Linked DNA regions of Homo sapiens: region 2 is linked to region 1. Evidence: fine-mapped expression QTL. Tissue or cell type: whole blood. Region 1 holds a variant in brackets; the other region holds the start of a gene. All regions are shown on one strand. Distances are from middle to middle.

Evidence for each region.
Region 2: it holds the start of ZNF608, and the variant in region 1 is fine-mapped to the expression of ZNF608 in whole blood (INTERVAL, PIP 0.97).

The regions. Positions count from the first base shown.
Region 1 is chr5:124,642,665-124,658,101 of GRCh38, reverse strand. ZNF608 (zinc finger protein 608) reads left to right here. Exons shown (of 10, transcript NM_020747.3): 4 at 8,405-8,492; 5 at 8,969-11,423; 6 at 13,441-13,858; 7 at 14,419-14,591. Among named protein-coding and RNA genes, the nearest start is that of ZNF608, 96 kb to the left of the region's middle. RefSeq lists enhancers at 6,019-6,068, 9,081-9,589. The variant A/G (reference allele first, on the strand shown) is at 8,331.
Region 2 is chr5:124,741,866-124,757,302 of GRCh38, reverse strand. It overlaps ZNF608 (zinc finger protein 608), which reads left to right and starts at 10,664. Exons shown (of 10, transcript NM_020747.3): 1 at 10,664-11,108; 2 at 12,131-13,219. The coding sequence starts at 12,314. RefSeq lists enhancers at 8,426-9,424, 9,552-9,731, 9,425-10,423, 12,463-12,532, 12,372-13,065 and 5 more and a silencer at 8,307-8,546.

The DNA of each region.
Region 1 (15,437 bases):
CAAAGTAGGGACTCCAGGAACCTTAGCAGGAACTACTAGAGGAACGGTCTACACAATAAGGGGTACATATTGTATATGAATGGTGCAGTACATATATTTTATTTTATTTTAAAGCTGGCCTCAAGTCATCAAGGGCAATGTTGCTTTAGGATATGTATGTTTGCCTAACTTAAAAGCAAATATTTTTGTTACTGATCAAAATTCCTGATTAAAAATTACTTTCTAAAGATCTCCATGTGATTTTTTTTTATGATGCTCTTTGTTACTTAAAATGTCTAAATTACACCTAAGACATTTTGTAACTAGGACACTTGCTTGGTAGAACATATGTTTTGATTATTTAAAAGAAGTAAAGCATGTCTTTCCACAGTAAACATTAATTGATCTCTAATGATCTGTTTTTGTTTGTTTGTTTGTTTGTTTTTTTGAGATGGAGTCTCGCTCTGTCGCCCAGGCTGGAGTGCAGTGGTGCGATCTCAGGTCACTATAAGCTCTGCCTCCCGGGTTCACGCCATTCACCTGCCTCCGCCTCCCGAGTAGCTGGGACTACAGGTGCCCACCACCAGGCCCGGCTATTTTTTATTTTTTTATTTTTTTATTTTTTAGTAGAGACTGGGTTTCACTGTGTTGGGCAGGATGGTCTCGATCTCCTGACCTCGTGAGCCACCCGCCTCGGCCTCCCAAAGTGCAGGGATTACAGGCGTGAGCCACTGCACCTGGTCTCTAATGATCTGTTTTGATTTAGTATTTCTTTTCATGTTATATCTTGGGCCCTGTAAGTTTTCACTGATGCTTAAACTTGGTCAGTGAAAATATCGTCACCATCTATATGTGCGGTGCAGCCTCCCACGTGAACATATGGGACAGCATCTTAGTGTTACCGGTGGTGCCTTATAAAAGTCTTATTTCTGCTCCCTCTTCTTACTCACAAGACTCCTTAACAGGCCATTGTATCTTCTAGAAGTGGGAAATGATAATGTTACTAGGGAAGCAAGAAAAAAGCAGCTTGGGCTTCTTTTAGCTGACCAGTCAGCTGGATATTGACCACCTGTCTTCATGGGAAAGAAATAGATGGCAGTGAATAAGCGAGAGTCTAGTTTTCCAAAGAAGCTCAATGATTTTCCCAAATCAATACAGCTCATCAGGCCTCAGAACAAAGGCTGCAGGGGAGGTGACAGTGATGGAAGTGGCTCTGTGTTCTTTTGTGTATTAAACCATAAGGCCCATGGGGAAACAAGGTTTCTTTAGCTGTGTGTGTGTGTGTGTGTGTGTGTGTGTGTGTGTGTGTGTGTGTGTGTGTGTTTAGGGCTTATTCTGTGTATTTAGGGGGAAAATCCTTTCAGATTTTTTTTTTAAAAAAGGATTTCCATAGATTGTATACCAATGACCAAATGTACTTTTGAAAGAGATAAGTACAGTCAAGTAAGAAAGATTATCATGTTTTAAAATGCAGAGTAGAACAGCATTTTTCCATTGCTTTTGTTATTGCTTAAGGTTTCATTTTTTGTTGTCGTTGTATGTGGATTGGGTTTAGATGAACCAAAAACAAGTCTGTGTTCAGATTAACCTCTGGCAAACCAAGAATCGTAACTACCCTCCCATAAACAAACCCTGTTCCTAATGCCCTGAAAATAACACCAAACCCTAATAGGAATGCTCAACTGTCATCTGAGAGGTTATAATTAACGCAGATAGAGTGATGCCAACATATTCCAGCCGCTGACAGAGAAGATCTATCCAAACCAGCAATTTTTAGCCCTTCAGTCCTTTAATCTTTAAGCTCACTGTGCTTTCATAAAGTAGTACATTAACACCAGAGCAGTGTGTCTCTGGGGTTTATGACTGGGGTGGCGGCACACTAGGGCATAAAGTGTTTCATTACACTTCCTTTTGTTAGTACTGCCCTATCTCCCAAGCTCCATTGCCATACACTATTTGTTCAGATAAAGCCCTATGTTCAGGGTGACTAATCGCAGCACTGTGTTCCAGATGGTTTGATTACAGGATGTGTTTAAAGTGACTCTTCAAACATTCAGCCCAGCGGTAGGGCTCTTTAAAAAAAAAACATACTGCATTTTATGGTCATGTGACAACACTTACTTTTCCTGTCCTAGTGCTCTATATATACTTGGCACAGGTAATGGGAAAGTCCCTCTGATTTTTGGCTGGCAGGTATTTTATGAGCAACCTTAGTTGTACATTTTAAATTTTCCCAAATAATTATATTTGAAGAAGGATCTGTCTGAAGGTTATAAGCTCCGAGGCTGGAACAGCGAAGCTTGTGCTATACAAGATTCAGCCTTTACAAAGTACCAGTATTGAATACCACAGAGTGACGACAACATAATAATGGGGGGAGGGAGTCCTGAACAAAGAAATGGTGATAAATCATACCTTGCACAATAGTCACGTTGTGTAAAAATGGAGGGTAATATGATATCTGAAATATATGAATTTTATCCTGTACTCATGAAATCAGCATATTGTGACATTTTGTCACCAATGTTTCACTAGAAAAAAATATATAAAAGGAAAGAAATGTGTAAACTTTCTTTTTTAAAGGCATATGGCATGAATGGGTTACCATTTGGTGTTATTCGAATGAGGTTTCTGTTTTCTGCCTGGATGCACATCAAATGCATCCAGATGTGGTAGTCTGAGAGAGTTCAAAAAAACTTCTGTCTGATTCCAAACTCAGCATTTGCGATGCTTGGCAAAGACTTCTGTCCCGGGGATGAGGCACTTTAAAGACTCTGAAGCAGTCTTTAAACTCAATACAAACAGAATTATGTCAATCCACTGGGAAATCAGGCATTTGCCCCGTTCTTGAGGAAACAGCTTCACAAATACCAGAAATAATAATTCATAAACCACATTTATAACATCTTGGGAGCAAAGCCTCTCCACAGAGAATGTCTATCATCTATAAAACTAGTGGGAGATTATGCTTATTGAAAAAGTATGGTAGTAATAAAAGGAAGTCACTGAGTAGGATTCAGTCTAGACTCTCTCTCTCGTCAGTCCTCGTGTAGTTAGTTCCTAGGTGTTTAATGAATTCTCACTATTAGGTAGCCACTGTGCCGCCAGGGGTTGTGGGTGCAGACACTGCTCCTATTTTCAAGGAGTGTCATCTAGTTGGAAGAGTTAGGCATACTGTGTATACAAGCAGAGTAAAATATTATGGGGGCCATGTATTACGGTAGGACAAATAGCCTTAAGTTCAGACCTGGGAAGTTCTCCTTGTCATTCAGGGTCCCAGATGAAGGAGACTCTGCCACCTTTATCCTGAGGACTTCGAGATCACAATAGCCATTTCCATTGCAGCCAGACAGAAAGGGATGAGAGGTTCTTATGGGCCAGGCCTGGAAGTGGCCCACATTCATCAGTTCTCTCACTTGCTTTCTGTAGGACTCAGTCACATGGCTGCATCGGACTGATAGGGAGGCTGAGAAGGAGTCTAGTTGTGAGCTCAGAAAGGGGAGGGAAACATGGCTCGTACGTTTCCATCAGGGCAAGAACTGTGTATGCAGTGCTGTGGGGATCCAGGAGAGAATGGCTGTCTTTTGGCAGTGTGCCTGGTATGCGTGTGTCTAGGGCAAGGATTCACAGAAGTGAGAACCTTTGCATTTGTCTCCATTTGCTTCTAATTCATTAGGAACTTTAACTTTCCCTAGGGATTTGGACTAAGGCATCTTCAAGGTTTCTTTTAGGGGAATTAAAAATGTGACATGAAGAACGGTTGAAGAAACTTGTCTAGGCTGGAGAGTAAAGAAGACATAGAGGCTGGGTGTGGTGGGTCACACTGTAATCCCAGCATTTTGGGAGGCTGACGGGGGAGGATTGCTTGAGGCCAGGAGTTCAAGACCACCCTGGGCAACATACTGAGAGCCCATCTCATTAAAAAAAAATAGGAAAAAGACAGTGAGCAGGAGGTGGGGAGAATGCCAACATGGTCATTATCCTTGCCTGGATGAAAGGCTGTTGAGTGGATGATGGGTGGACTGCATCTGCAGGGTATCAGGAGGCTCAGCCAGGACCAAGGTATTCAAAGACAAATTTAGTTTAACACAAGGAACAACTTTTTAACAAGATGGCTGGAAAATAGGCAATCCTGGGGGAGTGCTGGTGAAATCTTCTATCAGTGATGAAGCTGGAGAGAAAAAGGACACACACACACGCACACAAAGTCCTGAGGGTGTTGCACCAACAGTGCAGTTGGCTTCCTGGTCTTATAGCTATTGCGCCCTTGGAACTTTGGCCCATCATGGTTCTTTACGCCTCTTACTATCTTGCAAGCTTTAGGCTTCTACTCCTATTGCCAGTTCTTTGGAACTTCCATATTTCTCATTCAGATTCCCAACATAAGTCCCTGTTGGGCTGGCTGCCTTTGCTCCAGGTGCCCATCACTGGTCCAGTCAGATGGGGGCAGGGTTAGGATCACTGGTCTAGGTGGGGGCACCATGAACATGAAATCCAGGGTCTAGCCTGACGTGATAGCATAAGGGGCCTACTGTAAAAATGCAGGTAATAGACAAAACTATACTTCCACTTGTGCATCACAGTGTATGCCTGTGTCTCTTCTGTTCTTTTCATGCACAGACTCTTGAAGTACAGAGTTTGGATGGAGCTCCAAGTAAAACATGGTTGATTCCATAGCACTAAATAGGCACCTAATGTGTACCCTGTAGACACACACAATAAGTGTTTGTTGGGCTTGACATCTTCCTGGAAACCCTTTACAAAGGACATAACAGAACACTGACTGAAATCCTTATGAGGTCTCAGGCTTTTTTGGCTTGAGGAAGTAACAGGCTCAGGTTATATAATAAAGACCTTGTTCTTATTAAATGTTCTGTAGGTAATAGGCCTTTGGGGGCAGCATCTTAGACAAAGTGTTAACAGTACAAAGAAGAAAGCTGTGTGTGGTCAGCACACTCTCAAACCATCCATTGTACTCTTCAGCTGTATTCTTACTTTATTAGTAATAAGCCTCAGATGAAATGTTACAGGGCATTAGCTCTCTGACAAAGGCCAGGCCCAGTCCATGGGTGGAAAGGGAAGAATAATAAACCTGGTAGAATACTTGAATATAAAGATGAAAAGTACCTGTATAGAACGTCCCCAACACCTAGCTCACTGGCTAGATGTTTGAATAAATGTGCGTGAAAAGAAACTAATCTTTCTGGAATAAGTGTACACTTATTTCCAATTCACATGTGAGAAATAGAACTTTATGCCCAGATTTATAAAATACAAATTTGCACTTTTAAAGAACTAATTTTCATCATGGGCATTTATGCCTTCAGTAAGTGTAGTCTGCTTTATGTGACTGTGGGTTATAAAATGTTCAAGATTTTGAGATTTCAGCAAAATGATAAATCATTTACAAGTTTTAGAACCTAAACACCGCCTTTATACTTGGCCCTTCACAATGGGGTGTTGTCTAAACATAGACCTTCTTACAAAGAAACAGTACACTGTGTAGTTTATATGAGAAACATTCCTTAAGCCTTCATTCCAATATAGAGTGGCAGATTTGGCTGTGTAAACATGTGCCTGTATATATTCGGATGTGAATTGTGGGCAGATTTAAACACTCTGTGGCATTGTGAAGCGGCTCGTACATATAAAGAAAGATAGACACAAGCACACATATTTAATTAGCACTGCTTGATGGAGACTGTTCAAAATCTCCTTGGGTGTAAAGCATTTGTTTTGAGCATTTTAAATACGGAGTGCTTCTGGAAAAATAAGGGTTACTTATTTAGGCCCTTTGAGGTTGAAAATGGATTTTTCTTTCCAGGACTTGATTCCTTCCGAGTGCAAATAACAACGGCATCACTTGTACTTCGATAAGAGGTCTGCTTGTGTGGCTTCCAGAAAGAGCAGCAGGAGATGTGAATAATTTTACAGTGAGGAAGTTGCAACTGCAGATTAGCCTTTGTGACAGCTTCAACCTGTGGCCCCAGATAACCAGTGATTAATTGCCTGCCCTGGGTCCCTTCCTTTTTTCAGACTCCAGGTTTCCCTTGAGCCTGTATTGAGACGGTGAATTTCGTTCTGAGGGTTCTGCGTGGGCCGGCGTGTTGTGTGGAGCCGCGTGGCGCGGGGAGCGCAGCACGGTCACGCAGACCGAAGCTTTCACTGCACGGCCGGACTCGTTAGTGCGAATGAGCCTGTGTCCCGCGTGCACCGAGGGAGCCGAGCAGCGCAGGCGGCCCTCTAGCCCCGCACGGCCAGCGCGCCGTGGGGGATGCGTCCCTTTGCCTCCGCCACGCTCACCTCTACCCGACCGCTGCCTCTGTGCTCCGGGCGGCCGCCTCGGCCCAGCCAATCAGACGCGAGTGCTCGCAGCGGGCGCCGGCCAATCCGCGGCCAGCGTTCTCTGGAAACGCGAAACCCTTAGGGGAAAAGCAATAACAAAAGCCTTTCACTGCAGACAAATGTTAAGTGTCTGTGCAGACTTTTCCTGTTTTTAATTTTATTACTGCAAGAATGGAAGGTTTGTTGTTTCTTTCATGTTTCCTTTCAAGCAATTTTAATTATATATTTGTGCTACATCAGGGACTCTGGAACGCAGTGATTCAGCCTATTGGATCTAAAGCTAAAATGCAGTAACCTTCTGGCAGTACAGATATATTCCTGCACTGTAAATATAGCTGACATGCTAAAGAATTTTAAGCAGCTGCAAAGGTCTTTGACACCACACACAGTGCCCCAGAGAGAAGATGATGAGAAAACCAGCTCAGTCTTCCCCTTTGCCTCCTCTCCCACCCCCTCCCCTTTCCTGAAGGGATGTGTTCATAAAGAATCCTTTCCTCCAATTGTTCTGTCTTGTGCAGATTTTGACCAAATGCCTAATTACCATGGATTCTCATCGCAATAGGAAATTTTATACACAATGGTTTTAAAAAAATTTCCTGAGGGAATTTCATTGGAATCAGCTATGATTTGAGGAAATACTTGCTTTGCTCCATCCTAGCCTTTCCCCTGCTAGCCTATTGCTACAGTACACTGAATTAACACAGAGTAAATAATTCAGCTGTTGCCTAAGTAATAGCAACATAGACCATATGGGAAACAATTTTAAAATCTCCTTTTGAGACTTTGGAAAGAAATCGTTCTCCATTACTTGAGTCCCAACCATTGAAATATTTTACCTGCTGTTAAAAGGTTCCCAAGGAAATGAGTCTTACCTTGTCAGGTTTCCCTTACTGTAAAGGAGCCCACTACAGGTTTTCTGTAAAATTCACAATGGCAATGGTAATGCAAGTGAGCAAACTAGCTAGAAACAGATTTTGACTAATGTCTTCTGGTGCTTCCAAGAAAGAGTAGGGGTAGATGCAGAAAAGAAAACAAAGGCTCAGTTAAATATTTTATTTCTTTACCCTAATAATTTATGTATGTCTCAAAATCAAGGTTCTATTAAAATATGCTTTAAAGAAGTGATTTTTGTAATTTGGCATTTGTCCTCTCAGAAATAAAGAGGATATTATATTTTCTCTGTGACATTTGGTATACTAAGCACACTTAAGTTTAGTAATTCACAGATGCAGTGCTAAATTAAATTGTCTGTCTGAAAAGCAGTTGGAAAAAGCAGAATGGCTTGCAGGAAACGAGTGTGTTAGTTTTGAGATTTCTTTTCTAATCCTCTGAGGCAAATGCGTACCAAAGTTGACTCCAAAGATAACCCCAAGAGTAAATCTATTGTGCACATTTGTTTTCTTAAGAGGGCTATTTTAGGAGTCCTTAATATGAAACAAAACCAAACACTGAAACAGATACGGTACCCAGGCTGATTACTGTCTCACAAAGTCAAAGAGGGGAGGATTAGGGAAGTGAAATCGTAGTTGATTGTCTGCTATCTGGACTCTTGAGTCCCCACTCTCCTGTCTATGCCTATTTTTATGCACCTGCATAATTATTTTTTCTTAATAAAAATCACCATCATTTTATATTGTTGAATTGGAAACAAAACCGATTCCTTTCAGTCACCCTCTGGTTTAAGCACTGGTAACTGGCGCTAGTTTATATTGGCTGCTTGCCAAACGAAAGCAATTATGTGTAATAATAGAAAAATTAAGAGGTGAGTGTTGCTGTTTTACAGCAGGACATGGCAAAAACCATTTCCTTCTGTCAGCAGTATCTTGATTACACTCTCACACACAGTCTCACTCCTTTGTACCACATGCGCACGCGCACGAATGCACAACACACATTATTTCCTGTGGGTTTTAACTTGAGGTCACTGAAACCAGAAAGAGGAAGAATGCAAACCACAGCTTTTAAAAGCAAATGAGAATAGAACTTGCTGGCAAAAAAAAGAGAAA[A/G]AAATAATAAGTGAACTGGAAATAACAGTAATCAGTGGTAACTATGATCCTTTTTCATCCCCTGCCTCCTGCAGGTGTCCTAGTGGTCAATGTCACGTGGAGGAACAAAACGTACGTGGGAACCCTACTGGACTGCACCAAGCACGACTGGGCCCCTCCCAGGTATGAACAGGGCCTTTTATTTCTCTCCTTCCCCATCCTCTCTTTGCAGGGAAACTGTAGAGAGAGATTCATAATACATAAAAGTGTGCCTGTAATTGAAACCAGGCAAAGGAGAAATGAGCAATTTAGGATTGAACGCAGTAAAATGCAGATGCTAAATTTCTTTTCTATCAGAAGATCTCTGCTCCCCACCCCTTCTCTCCTGTCTTTGTTTTCATTTTTTCTCAAAGTGGGAATTTGAACTGGTTTGGAAGCTAGCTACTTGAGCTGTTTTTCTTTGGTTTTTCTGAGGAAGAATATAAGCCCTTGGTCGCCTGTTCTTTTGCAGGTGTTGGAAATTGTCAGTCTTTTCCTTGACTGGGCCCAGCCCTGAAGCTACTGGAGTGTTGACTCCTCTTTACTGCATTGTGTACTTTGTGATTTCACCTGGCTCTTTTGGGGATGCTCATTTTCACATCTGTTACTTGCTTCCATAGGTTTTGTGAGTCACCGACAAGTGACCTGGAGATGAGAGGGGGCCGGGGCAGAGGGAAGAGAGCGAGGTCTGCTGCTGCTGCCCCGGGCTCCGAGGCCAGCTTCACAGAGTCCAGAGGGCTGCAGAATAAGAACAGAGGGGGGGCCAATGGGAAAGGGAGGCGGGGCAGCCTCAATGCCAGCGGACGAAGGACACCCCCAAATTGTGCTGCTGAGGATATCAAAGCCAGCCCTTCCTCCACCAACAAAAGGAAAAACAAGCCTCCAATGGAGCTGGACCTGAACTCCAGCTCTGAGGACAATAAGCCTGGAAAGCGTGTCCGCACAAATTCCAGAAGCACTCCCACTACCCCTCAAGGGAAACCAGAGACTACTTTTTTGGACCAAGGCTGCTCTTCTCCAGTGTTAATCGACTGTCCCCACCCAAACTGCAACAAAAAGTACAAGCACATTAACGGCCTGAGGTACCACCAGGCTCATGCACACTTAGACCCAGAAAACAAGCTGGAGTTCGAGCCTGACAGTGAGGACAAGATCTCGGACTGTGAGGAAGGATTGAGTAATGTGGCACTTGAATGCAGTGAGCCAAGCACAAGTGTATCTGCTTATGACCAGTTGAAGGCACCGGCATCCCCTGGTGCTGGAAACCCACCTGGGACCCCAAAGGGAAAGAGAGAGCTGATGAGCAATGGCCCAGGTTCCATTATTGGTGCTAAAGCTGGGAAGAATTCTGGCAAAAAGAAGGGCCTTAACAATGAACTGAACAACCTTCCAGTAATCTCCAACATGACGGCTGCGTTAGACAGTTGCTCGGCAGCAGACGGCAGTTTGGCTGCTGAGATGCCTAAACTGGAAGCAGAAGGATTAATTGACAAGAAAAATTTAGGAGATAAAGAAAAGGGCAAAAAAGCTACCAACTGCAAAACGGACAAAAACCTCTCTAAACTGAAAAGTGCCCGGCCCATTGCCCCTGCCCCAGCCCCCACTCCCCCGCAGCTAATCGCTATACCCACTGCAACCTTTACAACGACCACCACTGGGACAATACCCGGACTGCCCTCCCTCACAACAACTGTTGTTCAGGCTACACCAAAGAGTCCTCCGTTAAAACCCATTCAACCAAAGCCCACAATTATGGGAGAGCCCATCACCGTGAACCCAGCTCTGGTGTCACTCAAAGACAAAAAGAAAAAGGAGAAGCGAAAGCTAAAGGACAAAGAAGGGAAAGAGACGGGAAGCCCAAAAATGGATGCCAAGCTGGGGAAACTAGAGGACTCCAAGGGGGCCAGCAAAGATTTACCTGGGCATTTTTTAAAGGATCATCTCAACAAGAATGAAGGGCTGGCAAATGGACTGTCGGAGTCTCAGGAGAGCCGCATGGCCAGTATCAAAGCTGAGGCCGATAAGGTTTACACTTTCACAGACAACGCTCCCAGCCCTTCCATAGGGAGCGCCTCGAGGCTGGAATGCAGCACTTTGGTGAACGGGCAGGCACCAATGGCACCTCTGCATGTGTTGACCCAGAATGGGGCAGAGAGTTCAGCTGCAAAGACAAGCAGCCCGGCCTATTCAGACATATCTGATGCTGCTGACGATGGTGGTTCTGACAGCAGGTCGGAGGGTATGAGATCAAAGGCCAGTTCCCCATCAGATATTATTTCTAGTAAGGACAGTGTTGTAAAAGGGCATTCTTCAACTACAGCACAATCATCTCAACTGAAAGAGTCCCATTCTCCCTATTACCACAGCTATGATCCTTATTATTCTCCAAGTTACATGCACCCTGGGCAGGTCGGTGCCCCTGCAGCTGGAAATAGTGGGAGCACGCAGGGAATGAAGATCAAGAAGGAGTCTGAGGAAGATGCTGAAAAGAAAGACAAGGCAGAGCAGTTAGATTCTAAGAAAGTGGACCACAATTCTGCATCCTTACAGCCTCAGCACCAGTCGGTGATCACACAAAGACATCCTGCCCTGGCTCAGTCACTTTATTATGGCCAGTATGCATATGGGCTCTATATGGACCAGAAGTCTCTGATGGCCACCAGCCCTGCCTATAGACAGCAGTATGAGAAGTACTATGAGGACCAGAGGCTGGCAGAGCAGAAAATGGCCCAGACTGGGAGAGGAGACTGTGAAAGGAAAAGTGAGCTCCCCTTGAAAGAGCTGGGCAAGGAGGAAACTAAACAGAAAAATATGCCATCGGCCACAATCTCAAAAGCTCCCTCTACTCCGGAGCCTAACAAAAACCATTCTAAACTAGGGCCATCAGTGCCTAATAAAACTGAGGAGACAGGTAAATCGCAGCTTCTCTCCAATCACCAGCAGCAGCTTCAGGCCGACAGCTTCAAAGCTAAGCAGATGGAAAACCACCAGCTTATTAAGGAGGCTGTAGAAATGAAGTCTGTCATGGACTCTATGAAGCAGACAGGTGTAGACCCAACCTCGAGATTTAAACAAGTAAGATTGTGGAGCGTGGCCCCAACAGGGAGAGAGCAGTCTGAGACTTGTATTATACATGTCTGGGCTTGATCTGGTTAGACTTCTGACACAGGAAAGAAACCCATATTAGTTTTTTCCTCTGCTCTTGAAAAATATCTTAAGATTCTCAGGAGTTACTATGTAGCTCTAAAATGTACATTATCAGTATTTTCTTGTCATGGTGTATAGTAAAAGGAACTGTGGATGGGTGCTTTGCAGATTTGTGTTTCATGCCACTAACTTGCTCTGTGACTCTGATGAGGTCCATTAATTTCTTTTTTTAAATTTTTTAAATTTTTTGAGACGGAATCTCTCTCTGTCACCCAGGCTGGAGTGCAGTGGTGCAATCTTGGCTCTCTGCAACCTCCGCCTCCGTTCAAGCGATTCTCCTGCGTCAGCCTCCTGAGTAGCTGGGACTACAGGCACGTGCCACCATGCCCGGCTAATTTTTTGTATTTTTAGTAGAGATGGGGTTTCACCGTGTTAGCGAGATGGTCTCGATCTCCTGACCTCATGATCCGCCCACCCTGGCCTCCCAAAGTGCTGGGATTACAGGCGTGAGCCACCGCGCCTGGCCAGGATCCCTTAATTTCTTAGTCCAAGGCGAGGGCTTTCCACAATGGGGCTGCTGAATTCTCTTCTAACTCTGAGATTCTGAGTCTTATCTCTGAAATATTTATTTTCCATTTTCAAATTTCTACTAGCATCTTCTTTGAAGATAATAAAAACTGGGTCCCTGAATTCACATTTCCCATTAATCTTTTTAATAGAATTTGGGGCCCAAATTTCTTTCACATGGGGTCAGAGATGCCTAGATTTCAGTCTTACTCCCTATATTAAGTACCCCAAAACTCAGAGCTCAGTGCTGAATGTTTGTGAGGAGGGTGAGGAGGTTTGGGTGGCAGGCCTCAACAGCTGTCCCAGAGCCCCATGGGTCAGTCAGCTTGAGAACACCTGAAAATTGGTCACCACGAAACCACAAATGTACTAGCACCTTCTGTCATGGTTCAGACATCCTGACCCACTGCAACCCCGTGAGCATTAATCCTGGTTATTTCCCAGCACTGCACATCCCCACTCCCACCCTCACCCCCATGCTTAGATAATCCCTGGTGCATTAGAGCAAGAACCACCAGCCCCCACCACCGCCACCCACACACACACATTTACTTAGGCACAACTTTGCATGTTCTCTGAGAACCTGAATCCCCAGTGGGTTTATATCATGAATGGGATGGGGATCACAAAGGCCATTTAGGATTCTCAGTTTCCCCACTTACAGAGGCATAAATCAGGCTGTCAATTCACAGGGCTGCAGAAGATTTATATAATTTTGGGGGTTTATAGATAGATGGCTTTGTTTTCCAATAGAGAAGCCATAACGTGTGCTATTAATTTGAAATTTTGTTTTGATTAAGATGTTAACACGTAATGAGAAGTGAGCCAATATATTAAGCCTCAGCTGCAGTAGATGAGGAAAATGTATTAGGAAACCAAGAGTTTTTCCTCCTAAGTGATGTTAATAGCTATAGCAATTACTTAAATTTACTATTATTAGCTTGAGTTGGAGTTTTTAACATTCTTTTCACCTGTGTGAGATATTAAAAGGCAAACGAAGACAGAATTAAATATGTCTGAGGATGTTATTTAGTGTTGAGAAATGACATTAAGGGCCCAGCTCTGAATTTCAGCAGACCTGAGTTTGAAGCCCAGCTCCACGACTGGGCAGCAGCATGACCTTGATGTTGCCTGAACTTTAAACACTTTGGTTTTATCTTCTGTACAGGGGATCAGTAATAATGCCTACCTGGGACATTATTACTTTGTAAGAGAAGGAGGTAAAGCAATTAGCACAGTGTCTAGCACAGAAATAAATGTCAACTTAGCATTAAAATTAAGAGTGCTAGTGCTGTCATGATTATTAACAAGTTTTCTTTAAAATTGAAATTTTAAAACAAATCTGTTGGGTTTTTTTTCTTTAAAACAAAAAAATCAGGACCCAGATTCAAGAACATGGCATCATTATGTATACCAGCCCAAATATCTGGATCAGCAAAAGTCAGAAGAACTTGATAGAGAGAAGAAATTAAAAGAGGATAGTCCGAGGAAAACTCCTAATAAAGAGAGTGGTGTGCCCAGCCTTCCTGTATCGTTAACAAGCATTAAAGAGGAGCCCAAAGAGGCCAAGCATCCTGATTCTCAATCAATGGAGGAGAGCAAGCTGAAAAATGATGATCGAAAGACTCCTGTGAACTGGAAGGACTCTCGGGGAACAAGAGTGGCTGTCTCCTCACCCATGAGTCAGCATCAGTCATACATACAGTACTTGCATGCTTATCCTTACCCACAGATGTACGACCCCAGCCATCCTGCATACCGGGCTGTTTCTCCCGTCCTAATGCACAGTTATCCTGGTACGTGTTGTCGGTTCTGACTATATTGGAGGAAAGAGGCGATGTTCAAATATTAGCTGTTAAAAACTCAAGATAAATTAGAAGCTTCAAGAGTGACATTTGTTTTCCTTGTTTTTATGCTGTTTAAAGTCCCAAAGATAAAACTGATTTAATATAAGTTTTTTTAATGAAATGTCAAGAATCCTCAGCCATAGTTTCCATAGTCTCTGATGGTCTGCTATAGCTGTTAGGCTGACAGATACTTTATTGCCTATAAAAATATTCTAAGCACTTACTGTCATAATCATTATAGTTACTATTCCTTTCACTTAAGCGGACACGTAAATGTATGAAATGGCTATAAGCTCAATTCTGTTTATAACCTCCCTTCATCAGGATGAATTAACTGGGAGAAGAAAATTGGAGAAGCTAGACACAGTTTAATGATGATGTAGCCCATTCTTAATGTAACCCCCTATTTTAAGATCTCTTTGACTCTTATCCCAAATTCATGTAACCCAAATGATTTTTTTTAAAGATATAGCCTGTAACTTGATGTGGCATTTGTTGTTTATCTGCAGGGGCATATCTCTCTCCAGGATTTCATTATCCTGTTTATGGGAAGATGTCAGGGAGAGAAGAGACAGAGAAAGTCAATACCAGCCCTAGCGTCAACACGAAAACAACCACTGAATCTAAAGCACTGGATTTGCTCCAGCAGCATGCTAACCAATACCGCAGCAAGTCTCCTGCTGTAAGCCTCCTTTTGTTGTTATTTAAAAGTACTGTGATTTGGGGAGAAAGGGGAACAAGCTAGAGAACAGTCTTGAAATATAAATGGTTTCGGAACCCAGCTGTGATTTCAGGATGCTGTTTTATCCTAATACGTAAAGAATGGAGCGTTCAAAAGTAAGACGCTTTCACACATGAGAGAAAATTGTTAAAGCACGTATGGCAGTAGCAAGCTTTTCTGTTGCAAAATCTAGTATACCTTGCTTACCCAGGAGGATGGTTGTTAGGTGGAAATTTAAATTCATAGGAACCAACTTTTGGTGCAAAATATGTTTGATAAGACATTGAGGAATTAGGTAACAGAGGAGTATATTTTATATAATTTTGGTAAGTAAGTAGTTCAGAGGCTACAAACTGTTGACTTTTTGGGCAAATCAAGCTTTTCAAAAAATGTTTTCTTGCAGGATACCTTTTAAAAATCAGACATTTTACATGCAAGTTCAGATCACCTCTTTCTCTTAAGACAATAGAAAATCTGGGCCGGGAGTGAGCCACTGCCTGTAATCCCAGCACTTTGGGAGGCCGAGGCGGGCAGATCACCTGAGGTCAGGAATTCGAGACCAGCCTGGCCAATATGGTGAAACTCCGTCTCTACTAAAAATACAAAAAGTAGCCTAGTGGTAGTGGGCACCTGTAATCCAAGTTACTCAGAAGGCTGAGGCAGGAGATTTGCTTGAGCCCGAGAGGCAGAGGTTGCAGTGAGCAGAGATTGTGCCACTGCACTCTAGCGTGGGCGACAGAGCAAGGCTCTGTCTCAAAAAAAAAAAAAAAAAAAAAAAAGACAATAGAAAATCTGGTTCAAAATGAC
Region 2 (15,437 bases), 99 kb before region 1:
CAGGCTTCCTATATTAAATCTTGGCTGGACCAAGATTTGGCTGGAAAATTTAGACAAATTACATGATTTCTGTGTCTCAGTTTCCTCATTCTGATGCTAATACTACTTATTTCACTTGCCTGCTATGAAGATTAAATAAATTAATACATATAAATAATTAAGAAGACTTTTTGGAACATAGTAAATCACACATGTATTTCCTACTATTATTCACTTGAATTACAAACCTATTTCAGGCTGGGCGTGGTGGCTCATGCTTATAATCCCAGCATTTTGGGAGGCCGAGGCAAGAGGATCCCTTGAGCCCAGCAGTTTGAGACCAGCCTGGGCAACATAGGAGACACCCTTCTTTACAAATATAAAGAAACTAGCTGGCTGTGGTGGTGCATGCCTGTGGTCCCAGCTACTCAGGAGGCTGAGGTAGGATTGCTTGAGCCCAGGAGGTTGAGGCTGCAGTGAGCTTCGATCATGCCTCTGCAATCCAGCCTGGGTGACAGAGTGAGATTCTGTCTCCAAAAATACAAAACAAAACAAAACAAAACAAAAAACCCCGACAACAACAACAACAACAACAAGCTTGAAAGAGTTGTGCATCCTTAATACACTATAGGAGTGTTAACTTCCTTTTTTTTTTTTTTTGAGACAGAGTCTCGCTTTGTTGTCCAGACTGGAGTTCTGGAGTGCAGTGGCATGATCTTGGCTCACTGCAACCTCTGCCTCCCAGGTTCAAGTGATTCCCCTGCCTCAGACTCCTGAGTAGCTGGGATTACAGGCAGCTGCCATAATGCCCAGCTAATTTTTGTATTTTTAGTAGAGACGGGGTTTCACCGTGTTGGCCAGGCTGGTCTCGAACTCCTAACCCCAAGCGATCCACCTGCCTCGGCCTCCCAAACTGCTGGGATTACAGGCGTATGCCACAGCACCCGGCCAAGAGTGTTAATGTTTAAAACATCTTTTAAAATTACAAATAAAAGGCAATGTTTTAATTATGAAAAAATACATTGTCTCCTTTACCTGAAAGATTACTTTTCAGTATTAAAGGTTTTTTAATTTAATGTTTTGACTTGTAAATATCTCAATAAAATTCTTTTTGGGAGACATTATGTTTAGAATTATAAAAATTAAAGCATATGTTTGTTCATTTAACTTTCATGGGACCCCTCTAAAATCCAAAGACACATCATTAAAACCCAAATAAACAGAAAACATTAAAATATGGTTAGAAAACATGTTCTCGTATATTCAACTCTATTCTTAACAGATCATTACATTTTAAAGGTGTTTGCAAGAAAATACAAGGTGCTTCCTTAAATGATTTTAAGAATCTTAAAAAAGAGGACAGAAGGACAGAAAGGAAAAGAAAGGAAAATAAAAGATGATTAAAATATTCATAGTAGAAAAAGGTCCACAGAGCAGTCTGGCAGGCAATGCATGTGATGAGCTGTAGAAACCTTAAACATCCTGGACCAGAAGTCAGCCAATCAGGGGGCTGAGAACCACATTTCCATAATGATGATTGGCTGGTGGACTGGAGGCACCGCTGAGCTGTGAGGAAGGGGAGGAAAGGCTCTGCTGAGAAAATAGCAAAACAACTTTCTGGCTTTCTGTTGTTTATTGCATATTCTCCAAATGATTGTAGTGATTCATTCTTTAGGAAAGCTTGTTTTGAAAACAAAAGAGGCACAGTTGTTCACAACAAAAGTGATATTCAACAGCCAAAGGAGCCGAGTATAACGGAACTCTTTTATTCTTCTTTAAAATAAACTTTGGTCTCCTGATTTCATCTAACCAAATATGTTAAGACTTCCCAGGTGATGCATAAGGGTTGGATTTAAATATTAAAATTAGGCAGGGGTTACTGTTTCTGATAAGTATCACTGCTTTGTTCTTCTGTCAGCTTTAGAAAATGTGCACAAATAGAATATATTTTTATAAAATGTGAAAAAAATCCTTAAATTCTAGCATCAAAAGTATATTTAGTGCTTTCACACTTGAGGGAATTATGCCACTCTCCAAAAAGAAACTAATTTAGGCATTTTGTTTTCCTGCAGTCATATATGTGTGAAAGTTGGAGATACATGTATCAATGTGTTTGGTATTGCTCTCAATTTTTACACATATGTAAAAATCTACTGTCATGAAGTCATAAGGATTTTAAAAATGACAAAAGAAGAAGCAGAGAAATGGAGGCAAAGGAGAAAGATGGAGTGGAACGTAATGGCTGGATCCTGCTGCCTCTTGATCTTCCTGTGCTTGATCGTATTGCATTTTGTTGTAATTGTTTTGAATTCAAATAGAGCAGTGACAACATTTCACCTACAAGTTTTTAAATTTAGTTTTACAAACACTGTATCTACGGGCCATCTATCTGGAAATGAGAATAACTCTATAATGCAGATTAAGCAGAAGTATTTTGCAGTCTCTCCCAGTGACTATTCCTTGGCTAGCTAACAGACCAGCCATTCAGAAGCAATTTTCTTCAGGCTGAAATTATGTGCTGACCTTAGCAGATCACTTCCCATAATAACCCTTCCCCCACCCAATGCTAAATACAATCTGTCTCCTACTCACTGTAATAACGTGCAAATGACTGTAATTTTACAGACAAGAAACAGCCGAAAGTGAAACGTGTCTAAACAGAGGTCGATTTGAAAAATCAGGGCTATTACCTAAATCTGTAAAATACATATTGTAATAAAACCAGCAACAGAAATCTCCAATAAGTAGTTCTTTTTTTTTTTTTTTTTTTTAATGTAGCTTGTGTTTTGATCTTCTTTATGCAGCCAGTCTCTGCTGGCATAAAAGAAAAATCCTTTTCCAGAAATGGTTTCATTACACGAGATGTAAATTGCCTTACTTTGCTAACTGATCCTCAGACCTTGCTTGAGCACCCACTCAGATATAGCTGCACACACCACACCACAAAAGCCCGAGCCAAGCGGAGGTACAATTTCAGATACTTAACACTGACCTACATTGCACTTCTCTTAATGAGAGCAGTATACAAATGTTTTCCTTTAAAGATCACATTGTTTTGCCATATTTTGCTAGGTTCTCTAGAGCTGCAAGGCATAAAAAAGACAATTTGCTGCTTTTTATTTTGATTATTTTAAGATGGAGGATTAGAGACTATATGAGGAATTACATAAACATAGAGGGTTTATAAGTATATAAAGTTCTTCAACTTTATATTGCTTTACTAATTAAATGCATTGTAGTCTTAAATAAATTCACGTAATATTTGCTCTATATCATCGCAACTTGTTTAAGGTAAACTGTATTGTAAAGACATGTCAAGACAGTTATTACTTTCCCTCCCTTGGGTGGAGGGTCTTTTTGTTATACTCTAAGGAATTTAAACTGAAGGTGAATTAATAGGGCATAGAAGTATCTTGAAAAGTTAACATAGCAGAGTAATACGATGTGTGTAAATAGTCGTATTTACAAAATGTATATTGGAAATGTCCCACAGTCTTTCATGGCAGGGAGAACATTGTTGATGTTTTTCTTCTCTGAGACCCTTCATGCTCCCCAAAAGGACCTGAAATGTTATGGTGTGCAGGGGCCCTTCTTTCCACGGTAGACAAGGCTCTTAGTGCTTTGTCTTGTTCCAGTGATATTTCAGGATAATGCAAAACGTCAAATGTTTGACCAAGAACAACACTGCTCGTCTCCTTTTGGCAACAGTTATCCAGAAATGGATATTTTTGTTTTTTTAAAAAGACAGGGTCCGGCTCTGTTGCCCAGGCTAGAGTGCAGTGGCGTGATTATGGCTCACTGCAGCCTCGACCTCCTGGGCTCAGGTGATCCTTTTGCCTCAGCCTCCTGAGTAGCTGGCATTATAGACCACCTTGCCTGACTAGTTTTTTTGATTTTATATAGAGACGGGGTCACCCTATGTTGCCCAGGCTGGTCTTGCACTTCTGGGCTCAAGGCATCTTCTCACCCCAGCCTCTAAAAGTGTTGAGATTACATGCATGAGTCACCACATCCAGCCTGGGAAATGGATATTGTTTAAAGTACTACCCAGAAACTTAAATTGGATTTAGCATGCAGGTGTGAAAAAGTAGAGACAGTGTTTTTTCTAGAGGACCTTTAGCAAGTCAGGATGTTACCTGTAGGGAAAAAAAGCAAAGACCTTCTTGTGTTTGTGTGGGTGTTTAATAAGTCATCAACTGTATTCCCTAGAAACCAGGGCAGGACACCTGCCCACTGCCTTGAGGCCATCCTGTTGATAAGCAAACCCAGAGAGATAAGAATCTTTCTCCATAATCCTCTGGGATAGCCAGTAAGTTTCTCATTATGTCTAAATTAAGTTCTTTTTCCTATAAATTAACCCCATTTCCATGTTGGTTTCATTTTTTATAACTTTGTTTTCCACTTTTTCCCTTGATCCTGAGTAGATCTCAAGTGTCAATGTTGGCATAAATATAGAAAAGGTAGGCCTAGGAATAGACTCCCTTACAAATACACAAAAACTGGAGAAATAGATATATATTTAGACATGTTCTCATTCTGTTGCCCAGACTGGAGTATAGCAGTATGATCATAGCTTACTGCAGCCTCCAACTCCTGGCCGTTAATGATCCTCCCACCTCAGCCTCCAGAGTAGCTAGGACATAGGCATGTGCCACCACGCCTGGCTAACTTTTTAAAAATTTTTTGTAGCCGAGCACGGTGGCTCACACCTGTAATCCCAGCACTTTGGGTGGCTGAGGCGGGAGGATCACGAGGTCAGGAATTTGAGATCAGCCTGACCAACATGGTGAAACCCCGTCTCTACTAAAATACAAAAATTAGCCAAGCGTGGTGGCGCACACCTGTAATCTCATGTACTCAGGAGGCTGAGGCAGAAGAATCCCTTGAACCCGGCAGGTGGAGGTTGTAGTGAGCTGAGATGGTGCCACAGCATTCCAGCCTGGGCGACAGAGTGAGACTGACTCAAAAAGAAAAAAAAAAAGAAAAAAAAATTTTATAGAGACAGGGTCTCGCTATGCTGAGCAGGCTGGTCTTGAATTCCTGGTTTCAAGCGATCCTCCAGCCTCAGCTTCCCAAAGTGCTGGGATTACAAGCATGAGTCACTGGGCCTAGCCCAAGAAATAATCTTTGATCTTTAATAATATACCCTAAATCAGAGGAAATAGGCACCAAAGAAAGATCACCATGTTTTCCTGTGTTACTGCTAGAAGCCCCTGGCCTCCTCAGCATTGAGATCGTCTGTCTTTAAAAAAGGAGGAAAGGGACCTTTTGATGACCTTAACAATGATGTAGTACAAGCAGGGGCAGAGCTGATCTTGAGATCCAAGGAGCGGGTAGTGGAGGTTGTTGGAGGGGGATGATACTGTTTTGTTTGTTTGTTTGTTTGTTTGTTTTTGAGATGGAGTTTTGCTCTTGTTGCCCAGGCTGCAGTTCAATGGCGCGATCTCGGCTTGCTGCAACCTCTGCCTCCTAGGTTCAAGCAATTCTCCTGCCTCAGCCTCCCGAGTAGCTGGGATTACAGGCATGCACCACCACGCCTGGCTAATTTTGTATTTTTAGTAGAGATGGCGGTTTCTCCATGTTGGTCAGGCGAGTCTCAAACTCCCGACCTCAGGTGATCCGCCCACGTCGGCCTCCAAAGAGCTGGATGATACTTTTTAAATGCCCCTTTTACACTATCCTCATGCTCCTTCCACCCCTCTGTTCCAAATACTCATTTCCTGACATCTCCTCCTTTCTACCACATCTCTGAGTAGACACTAAGGTGTAAAATTACATAGTGCTTATATTATACAGTAGTGTATTGATATTATGAAGTATATGCATGTGGATATTAGAATGGTGACAAATAGGTTCCTAGTTACCTTGATGAGAGATTAAGATAACATTTTCATCTCTATAAATACAGAAAACTTCCCAATTTTGTGAGAGGAGTAGCTCTGATTTTCAAAACTGGTAGTTAATTGTCTTAGTTTCAGTCATCAATTAGCTGATGGTCCTCTGATGCCTTTTGATTGGCCCCTTTGTCAAACAAAACAAAACAAAACAAACACAAGAAAAGCCAGTCTGACAACACTGGTTTATTCAAAAGTCTCCTGGAAGAACCTGGGAGGAAGGAGGTGGGGGTGGGGTGTAAATGGAGTGTGGAGATGTTGGAATGGAAGGAAATACTTTAATTTATCAAAATGGTTTGGGTTAAATATGTGGTAGAGTCGGGCCTAAGCCTTCATCTTGGGCCAGTAGGGTTTCTCAGAAAGGTTTAAGGTTTGGGTTTAAGTGTTGAAGCTCGGGTTAGATTAGATTATTTGATTATTACAAACCCTAAACTTTGGTTTTAGTTAGACTTCATCTGTGCTGCAGACGCTGTAATTTGTTTTGTATTGGAGGAACTCCAATCTTCTCCAGCTTCACTAGGTCTCATTTTTAAATGTCCCATTCTTTTAAGAACTACCTATATATTATTTCCAAACTAATATAACATATGGGGTAGGCATGGGCTTCCAAAGGCTGAGATGTAGATGACACCCCAGGGACACAGGAAGTGCCCAAGAGTGATCTGATCCTTTGAGAAATCACTCTTTTAGAAGAAGAAAAGTTAAAAAACAGTATGGTGCTGTATTCTTATCAATGGGGCATACACAAATGTAAAATCTGTATATTCAAAAATATAAAACAAATCTCAAAGCTAAAATGGAGGCTAGGTAGATATCAGATCCCTAATTTGCCCATTTTATTTGTTAAAGTACAGCTTTGATTTGAATACAAATTGACTTAGGGAGAGCTAAGGACTAGTACAGATTGCATTCCTCTGGTTTATATGTCCCAATAAAGGGTGGAAACTGCTGTTTATTACTATTTGCAGCCTCAAATCTAGTTCATTTATGGTAGTGAAACAGCTAATTGGCAATTTTTTTATGGACTAAATATATTGAAAGCTCAAACATGAGTCAATAGCCATTATTTAAAATATGTGACATAAATATTTTTATTGATCCACGAAGTCATCACTGAATATTTACATCAGAAGCTGTCTTCTGCTAGCACTCATTCACTTTACATGTCCATATGACTCAGTTAAGACACAACCTTAAATTACAATTGTCACGTGGAAATTACAATCCCAGTAGTACTGGATCTTTAAAACTTGGGATCATGATGCTTTCAGTTTACAGTAACCTTTGACTTTCAAATGTCCATATTGTAGCTTCTAAAAACAATGAAGGTAACAATAAAAAATTAAAAATTAAATGTACTCTAAAGGCTTAATATATGTAAATACATTAGCTTAAATATGTTAGCTGTTATAGTAAAATGTTAAACTTGTTATTTCATATTAACCTCTCTTATCCTATGAGCTGAGTCTCATTAACTTGGTTGCTGGCATTTGTCCTACAATAAATTCTAAAATATTTCTGTGTTTGTGGATTGTAGATGTAGCATTCAGAGGATTCATGATGCCCCCTTCCCCACCAGTGGGGTTAAAGATATGGGGGAAGAGGAATTCTGACCCTTCCACAGTTTAAATACGTGTACTGGGACTGTTTAACAGTTAATCTTCCTAGTACATTTAACTTTCATAAGTCGATTTTTTAAAAGATGAGGCTGGCCCGAGGTGTTACTATGTTTAGCTGGGGCCTTATTTTAATATTAAGTTTTTCTTTTTTGGAGTCACATAACACCAGGTGGAAAAGATTTGTTACTAATTCCAGGGAAGAACCATTCACATAGTGTTGGTTAAATGGTCGCCTGCGTTCACACTTCAGTGCCTGTAGACCAGAGCCCTGGAAACAAAAGGGTTACTTGTTTCCCCACCATCGCCTTTACCCGCAGATCGATTTTTCTTATTTAATCAGCGAGTAAAAAGAGAGACACAGGGAAGAAAAAAAAAAAAAACTGCAGGAAGGGCAAAGTGGTGGGGGGAGGGTTGAAAGCCAGAAGCTGCAATACAGAAAATCAGTCTTGGGAGTTGGGCTGCGAAGTCCTTGGAACAAGGAAGGGAAGCCGGCAAAATGCTCGCAGTCAGTTCCACACAGCCAGCCTCCCTTTTCTCTTCGCTACGCGCTAGCGGCTCGTTTGGCTTCTCTCTGCCACCGAGCGATCACATACATTATTTCCCCCAAGATAACACAATCAAACTTGTATTTACCGACATCCTCTCCTCGCAGCCTGTTTGAGATTTGTTTTAATAAATAAGTGTTTTATGTGAATGATGTAGTAATTGAAAGGGGCGCACCATTTTTTTGCCTTCTTACTGCGGGAGGTTCCTCAACCCCAATCTGGTTGGAAAATAAAACGCTTTGTCTCCACAACCACCCCCCACAGCACCCCCACCCGCTCTCAGTGTGTGTTTTATACGTGTGTATATCTCAACCCCCTACAGTAGCCAAGAGAAAGCAGCTAGCCAATGAGAGAGCCCAGTTTCATAAAAGCTGCTCTCTGATTGGCCCGATGCGAAAGGGCACTGGGAACAAAGAAAAGTCCCTTTCAGGTATAGAGGCTGAGAGCTTCTTTTGCTCCACTCCCCCTGTGTGTGTGTTGTGTTTCAGTCCTGATTTAGTGTTGCAGAACAAGCTTGTTGTGTGTGTGCACCAGGGGGATTTTTGTTTTGCTTTTTTTAAATTTTAATTTTTGCTTTTATAAAAAATACACAGGACGGTCTGTGACATTTGATGGTCCATCTTCTTTAATAATAAATTTGTTGAAGAGATTATAATTTCCAAAATAAAGCGGCTGCAACCAAACACATTCAATGCAGTTAGAAGGAAAAGGTCAACTCGATCCAATACAGACCGTAAGTACGGTTGCGTGGTGTGTCTCTATATAGCACTTAGCGGGGACTTCATGCAGGGGAATGTGCGAGTTTTATGCATAGAAATGAGGAACTAGTTACAGGGTTTGGCTTTTGCATTTAGAACAACAACCCAAGAAGGGTGAATTTTATTCAGTGGAGGGTGAAGCATTTGTAACTTCACACAAATTAAGCTTGACTGGGCACTCGGGGTAACTTAGAGGAAATTAGCTTTTGGGCTCTAACCCAAAGGAGAATAAAAGTGACACAGTTGCATATCCTGGTCTGCAGTGTCAATTCTCTAGCTCACCTTACTCCCTCCCTCTTCTGTCCTAGCTGGGCAGACCCCCCTCCCAAAGCGATCCAGGAAAATGGGGGCAAGGGCAGAACAAGCCGATTTCTGTCTCCTGTCAGATCCCAGTGCCCGATAATTTAATATTAAACAAGGGAATAGTCACTCATTACATGTAATGGTTATAATTACCATTCGCCATCTCCTTAAAAAAGCAAGCAACAAAAATACCATTAAGAGAAAAAATAAAAGCCCCACCCAACCCAAACAAACCCACAAATAGTAACAATGGTGTATTTATTACAGGACCAGGCTGGGGAGCAAGCAAAAGGTTTTTCTTTGTTTAATACATGAAGTGGGGGTCCCTAAAATCCAAGTAGCTCGGAGATACCCTTCTCCCTCCCCCAGGCGTCCCCGTCCCTGGCCCCTTGGGAAAGCCGACAAATTGGAGATAAGTTGAGGAAAGGTTTATAAAGTGTTTCTTTAAAACATCTGCTTTGCTCTTGTGCTCATTACATTTCGCTCCTTCCGAACTTCGGAGATCCTAGATCTCCGAGAAATGTTTCACATTCATAACTTGTAGCTTCGCCCACTGCGGGGGGGCGGGGGGAGGAGGTTGGGGGAGTGTGTGCAGGGGGAGGGGAGAGACTTTCAGCTTTTTTTTTTTTAAAGACCAGATCAGTATTTTCTTGATACGCTTGTCACCATTTTTGTTCTCACGACAACCAATTGAGCCCTTGATCCTCACGTGATGTGAAAGGCTTGCACTGTAACAAAATCGCTCCTTTTAGATGGTTGGTTGTTACTAACTCGCCCATCCCCCTCTCCCAGCCCCGACATTTCCAGCAAAGCGACTCTCCACTTCCAATCCATCAACAATTCATTACTGCTTTTAGCTTCCAAACGCCAGCTAATTAAAAATACTAAGCCAAGCTCCGGGGCCATCTGACTAAACACAGGAGGGGCTGGGCGAAGGGAGAGGAGAGAAAAAATAAATAAAAGGGAGACACACCGTTTGCTGCGAGTATAAGAGGGAAAAACTCCCGAAAAGGGTCGCCTTAAAAAAAAAAAAAAAGAAAACAAAAACCTTATTTTGACTCTAATTATCGAATTACCACATGACTGGCTGACCTGAGCGACAGAGGATTCCACTCCCCTCGGGAGCTATACTAGGAACTCAGTTCCTTTTTCTTAAAACAACATAAGACAGGAAAACATCACATCCTTTAGGTTTCGAAGACTGAGCCCATTTTAAACGCCGTTATTTTCCCCACCCCACCGCCCCAAGCCCCCCGCCCCCCGCCCCGAGCGAATGCTGTTATAACTGGTTTATCAGCTCACTGAATCATCTGCTGTCTCCTCCTCCACACCTTTCTTTTTCTCCTCTTGCCCAGTTTCTCATCCCACCCTTTCTTCTCCTCCTCCTCCCTCTACTCCCCCCCTCCTTTTCTCTTAAGTTAGTTCAAGAAATCAAATCTGTCAGGACGGGCGGAAAAATGCCACTTCCCGACTAACAGGCGGAATCCAGCCCAGATTTTCAGTCCTTTCTTCTTATTCTTTCTTCCCTTTCACTAATTTATCCCGATGTTAGCACATTCTGTCTCGTTACTAGCGGACGCCTGTAGGTTTGCTACATGGGATCATTACTGATCACGGTGACTCTGAAGTCTGGAACTGAAGGCGGAATGAGAAGTTGGGAAAACTTTTTTCTCTAAACTCTCTGTTTTTTAAAAAACTATTATTCTCGATGCTTGTTAAGAGGAAAAAAAAACCTTTGGTGCTTCTGTTGTGAATGTGAAACATTATTTTCCAGCTGTACAGTGACACATTTTTTTTAAGGAGAAAAGGACTGATTCGTTTGCCAAAAGGGGGGTGGGGAGGTGGAATAATGTTATCGAGTGATTATTCTGGCTGAGATGTGTTATTTGGTTTCTTCCTTCTTGATCATTTGGTGTTTAAGTAAAATGAGGCACAGGCTTGTTTGCCGAGTGGAGTGGGAAAGGCATTTTGATTTGCTGGCCTAATTAAAAAATGATAAAGGATTAAAAGGTAAGCAATGTCTGTGTGTGTGTATGTGTGTGTGTATGTATATTTATTTATTTTTTTCTTGACAATCAACTGTTAAAAAGGGGCTGATCCCTTTAAAAACCGTTTTAACTGCTCTTTGTCAAACACACTCATTTGCGGTCATTGAGGCCACCTTGGCGCAGATCACTTAAAGTGTATGTCTTAATCAGTTTTCTGTACAGTCAGTAGCACCGTATTTAAGAGAGTGAGCAATTCTCTGACCTAGGAATATGGTAGAATTGTTTAAATGTATTTTTTTCTCAAAAGGCAGGTATTTAACTTTTTATATAACACTGTCTTTTCTAGAGAGAAATGCTCTTAAAAGACATGCATATTTCAAAAAAGAAATTGTAGAAGCTGTTTGGGAAAAGAGGATAGGAGGGAGGTATGTGTGTGTGTTGGGGGCAGTTATTGGTTGTTTTTTCTGTTCCTTACTAGGAACAAAAAACAGATTGCCCAGACAATTTGTAAAAAGAAGTACTGAAACCTAAATTAGAAATAAGGAAAATTTAGCAACATTCTATTCTGAAAACTAGCCTCAGAACTTCCAGGGTCTGGTCTTCTAAATTGCAAGATCTAGGACATGTTTAGGGATGTTTAAAGCTGTGTTCTTCCTTCTTGTCTGAGTGTTCAGGCTGTGTTTCTGGGGTTGAGATATCACATGTGCCAGACTGAAATCCTAAACTTTAAAAAAGAACACAAAAACCTTTCTGGACTTGAATCAGATCCTTAAGATAATTTAATGCTTTTAAAAAGGTGATTATCCTTGTGTTGTTGATAAAGGGATTTTCTTTTTAGCTACCGTAAGATGCTTACTGTCATAGGTTTATTTTTCGGGTTTGGTTATTTTCCTTTAAACCTGATATTGGACTGTGAGGACAATACATGAGCCACCTTACTCTCCATCCTTCCCTGTCCCCTTTACTGATTCCCCAATACTAATCGTTTTTTATTCTGGTAACACCCAGACAAGAAATATTCGACTTTTCCCCCCCCCTTCACAGGAAAAGGTGGACCTGGACTGAGGGTGTAAAATCCCTGGACACATTCGTGGGGCAGGAAAAAGAAGAGGAAGATTAGAAGATTTTTTTTTTCTTTGAGAGAAAGCCCAGCGGAGATAAACGAATGTCCCCTCATCTCCAAAGAAAAGTTCATCGGATTTTTATTCTAGAGAGCTCATCTTCAGGATGTCAGTGAACATTTCTACTGCAGGAAAAGGTGTGGATCCAAATACAGTTGATACTTATGACAGTGGCGATGATTGGGAAATCGGGGTTGGAAATTTAATAATTGATTTGGACGCTGATTTGGAGAAGGACAGACAGAAATTTGAGATGAATAATTCCACCACCACCACTAGTAGCAGCAACTCCAAGGATTGTGGAGGTCCGGCCTCCAGTGGGGCTGGTGCTACCGCAGCCTTAGCTGATGGCCTAAAATTTGCTTCTGTTCAGGCCTCTGCTCCCCAGGGGAATTCACACAAAGAGACCAGCAAATCAAAAGTGAAAAGGAGTAAAACTTCTAAGGATGCTAATAAATCTCTGCCTTCTGCTGCCTTGTATGGGATTCCCGAGATCAGCAGCACTGGCAAGAGGCAGGAAGTCCAAGGGCGCCCTGGAGAGGCAACTGGCATGAATTCAGCGCTGGGTCAAAGTGTGAGCAGCGGCGGCAGCGGCAACCCAAACAGCAATAGTACCAGCACCAGCACCTCTGCCGCCACCGCGGGGGCAGGCTCCTGTGGGAAAAGCAAAGAGGAGAAGCCAGGTAAAAGCCAGAGCAGCCGAGGCGCCAAGCGGGATAAGGATGCGGGGAAATCCAGGAAGGACAAGCACGACCTGCTTCAGGGCCACCAGAATGGCAGTGGCAGCCAGGCCCCTTCCGGGGGGCACCTCTATGGCTTTGGGGCCAAGAGCAATGGAGGTGGCGCGAGCCCCTTCCACTGCGGGGGCACTGGGAGTGGCAGCGTCGCCGCTGCAGGGGAAGTTAGCAAAAGTGCCCCGGATTCAGGGCTCATGGGAAACTCTATGTTGGTAAAGAAGGAAGAGGAGGAGGAGGAGAGCCACAGGCGAATCAAGAAACTGAAAACTGAGAAGGTAGGATAAAGTCGCCTTCCTAGATGTCCTACTCTCCTCTGTGTGCATTTGTGTGGGTGTGTGGGGGTGTGCCTCTGTGTGCCTTACACTTTATGCTTTCTGGTTCTTTGTGAGATTTCTATGATATGCATCCTTTATATTAAAATTTGATATGGGGGAGCCTACTTGGGTGCAGTGTTTGGCTCTTGCTTCTGCTGTCCTTGCTGCTGCTGCTGCTGCTGCTGCTGCTTGTGATGCTAGTGTTTGGGTTCCCAGGTGGGAGGGCCTGAGTGTTCTAAGTACCTTTTGCCCTGTAGATCGGTTCCTCACTAGTCAGCAGGTTGCCGTGTGCTTTTAATAGAAAACCTGCTCATGCACCCTCTTGACTCTTGTCCTGCTTTCTTCCTTAAGGGGAACAGTTTTCTATTTTAATTTATTCATCCTAGTATTGCGGGTAATGTGTCCTTAGGTGCAAGGTTCAAGTTCCCTCCCTGGAGAGGAATGTCGAGGATTCGAATTTACATTCTACAGACCTCATCCCTTTTATTTTTTCTTACTGTCTCCAAAATAGTACTGTGAAAGGATATCCTTGAATGAGTTCTTGTTATTGGTCCTGAATGAAACCCCAAGCTTGATGTGTTGGGTCATTGGTTTCATAACTGCAGAAAAACTCGATGGTTTTGGTGGCTGTTAGCACTCTACCCCTGTTCCCTCACCCAGTTCTTAGCTAGAGATTTAAGAGTGTTATCACTTGGATACCTGACTGGGGAGCTGGACGGCTGCTAAGAAGAATAAAACAGACTTGCTGGACTGATACTCGTGAAATGTGAAAATGTAGCCAAAGGGGATGTAGACGGTTGAGTGAATTGGAATATAGAATTATGTGCTGCATTTAAACGGTGTGGATGGTTGATTTAGACCATTTGGACCCTTCTCCCCTTCTTTGTACAAGTCTATAGTTAGACACTGCCTTGGAAGAACTGCCTGCCCCGACACCCACACCATGTTTTGCTGCTTAGTCATAGACCACATTGACTAATGTTTGGGAACAGAAGGTGTTCTGTCCACTAGGCAGGTTGGGAAGGAGTTAGGGGTGTGTGTGTGATATTTCTATGAAATTAATCTTCATATTAATTCTACAGGTTGTGCCTTGCAGAAGCAAGCTTTCTGTCATGTGGGTTGTGGCATGGTTGTTGGGGAACATCCTTATTAAATAATTTTGATTTTTTTTTGCTATAGTTGGCGATTGGGATTGTAAGTGGTGATAATATGTCTTTGGAGAATTATTTCTGTGTAAAATGGTTCACTGCTACTTAAACTTTTATATTCTTGTTTTTGTGTTCAGGATTTAAGTTGGAGTATAGGAGTAAAGTTTTGATTTTTAAAAGTTGATAGAGGCACATTAAGGTGTAGATAATGCCAAATTTGCAAAATGCCTCCAAACGCTTATAAATTCATATCCTCTTGGTCAGGTACATTAATGAATATAAATGAATTTTTGAAAATTCCGGGTTTTGAGTCTTATATTTAAATGTGTAGTTTCACATTATTTCCGCTAAAAGGTGTTCTGAAATCTTCTTATTACTTAGTACAGTAGGGCATTTACTTTTGTTGCCAATAGTCTTCAAATTGCAGTTCTAATCTGCTTTAACTATCTAGATGAATTGCCCTAATCCAGTGCTCACAATGGCTGTGGTTAAGGAGTCAGAGCCATTTGATTGGATTCACTGGCTGCTTGGAATGTGGGAGGTACTGCCCTTTTGCATTCCCCTTAGCCTTTTAATCTTCCAGCCAAATGTTCACATTCAACAATTTTGTTTAGCTGGCAATCGGAACATTTCAGTATCTAAAAGGCTGCTGTCATGGCAACTGAGATTAGAGCGTGGTGTCGTTTCTCCAGTTTTTGTGTGTTCTTTTCACTTTCCAGTCACAGAGGAAACTGGGTGAAGAATGGAAGAATTAAATTATTCATATACATGCAACTCATCTTCAGTTAGAGCAGTATAAATGTGATAAATATGAATTACATAAATGAAGAGCAAACAAGTCATGGTGGATCTGGGGTGGGGGAGGGAAGAAAGCACACTGCAATTTAGATTCACTTCTGATCCTATACCAGAGGAAGCTGTGCCACCAATCTTAGCCACTGGAGTTGGCACAGGGGCCCCTCAAAGGCTTGGATCCAGGGGCTTGGATCCTGTAGTGTTGGCCATTCTCTGTCAAGTTGGGCGTTGGCTCA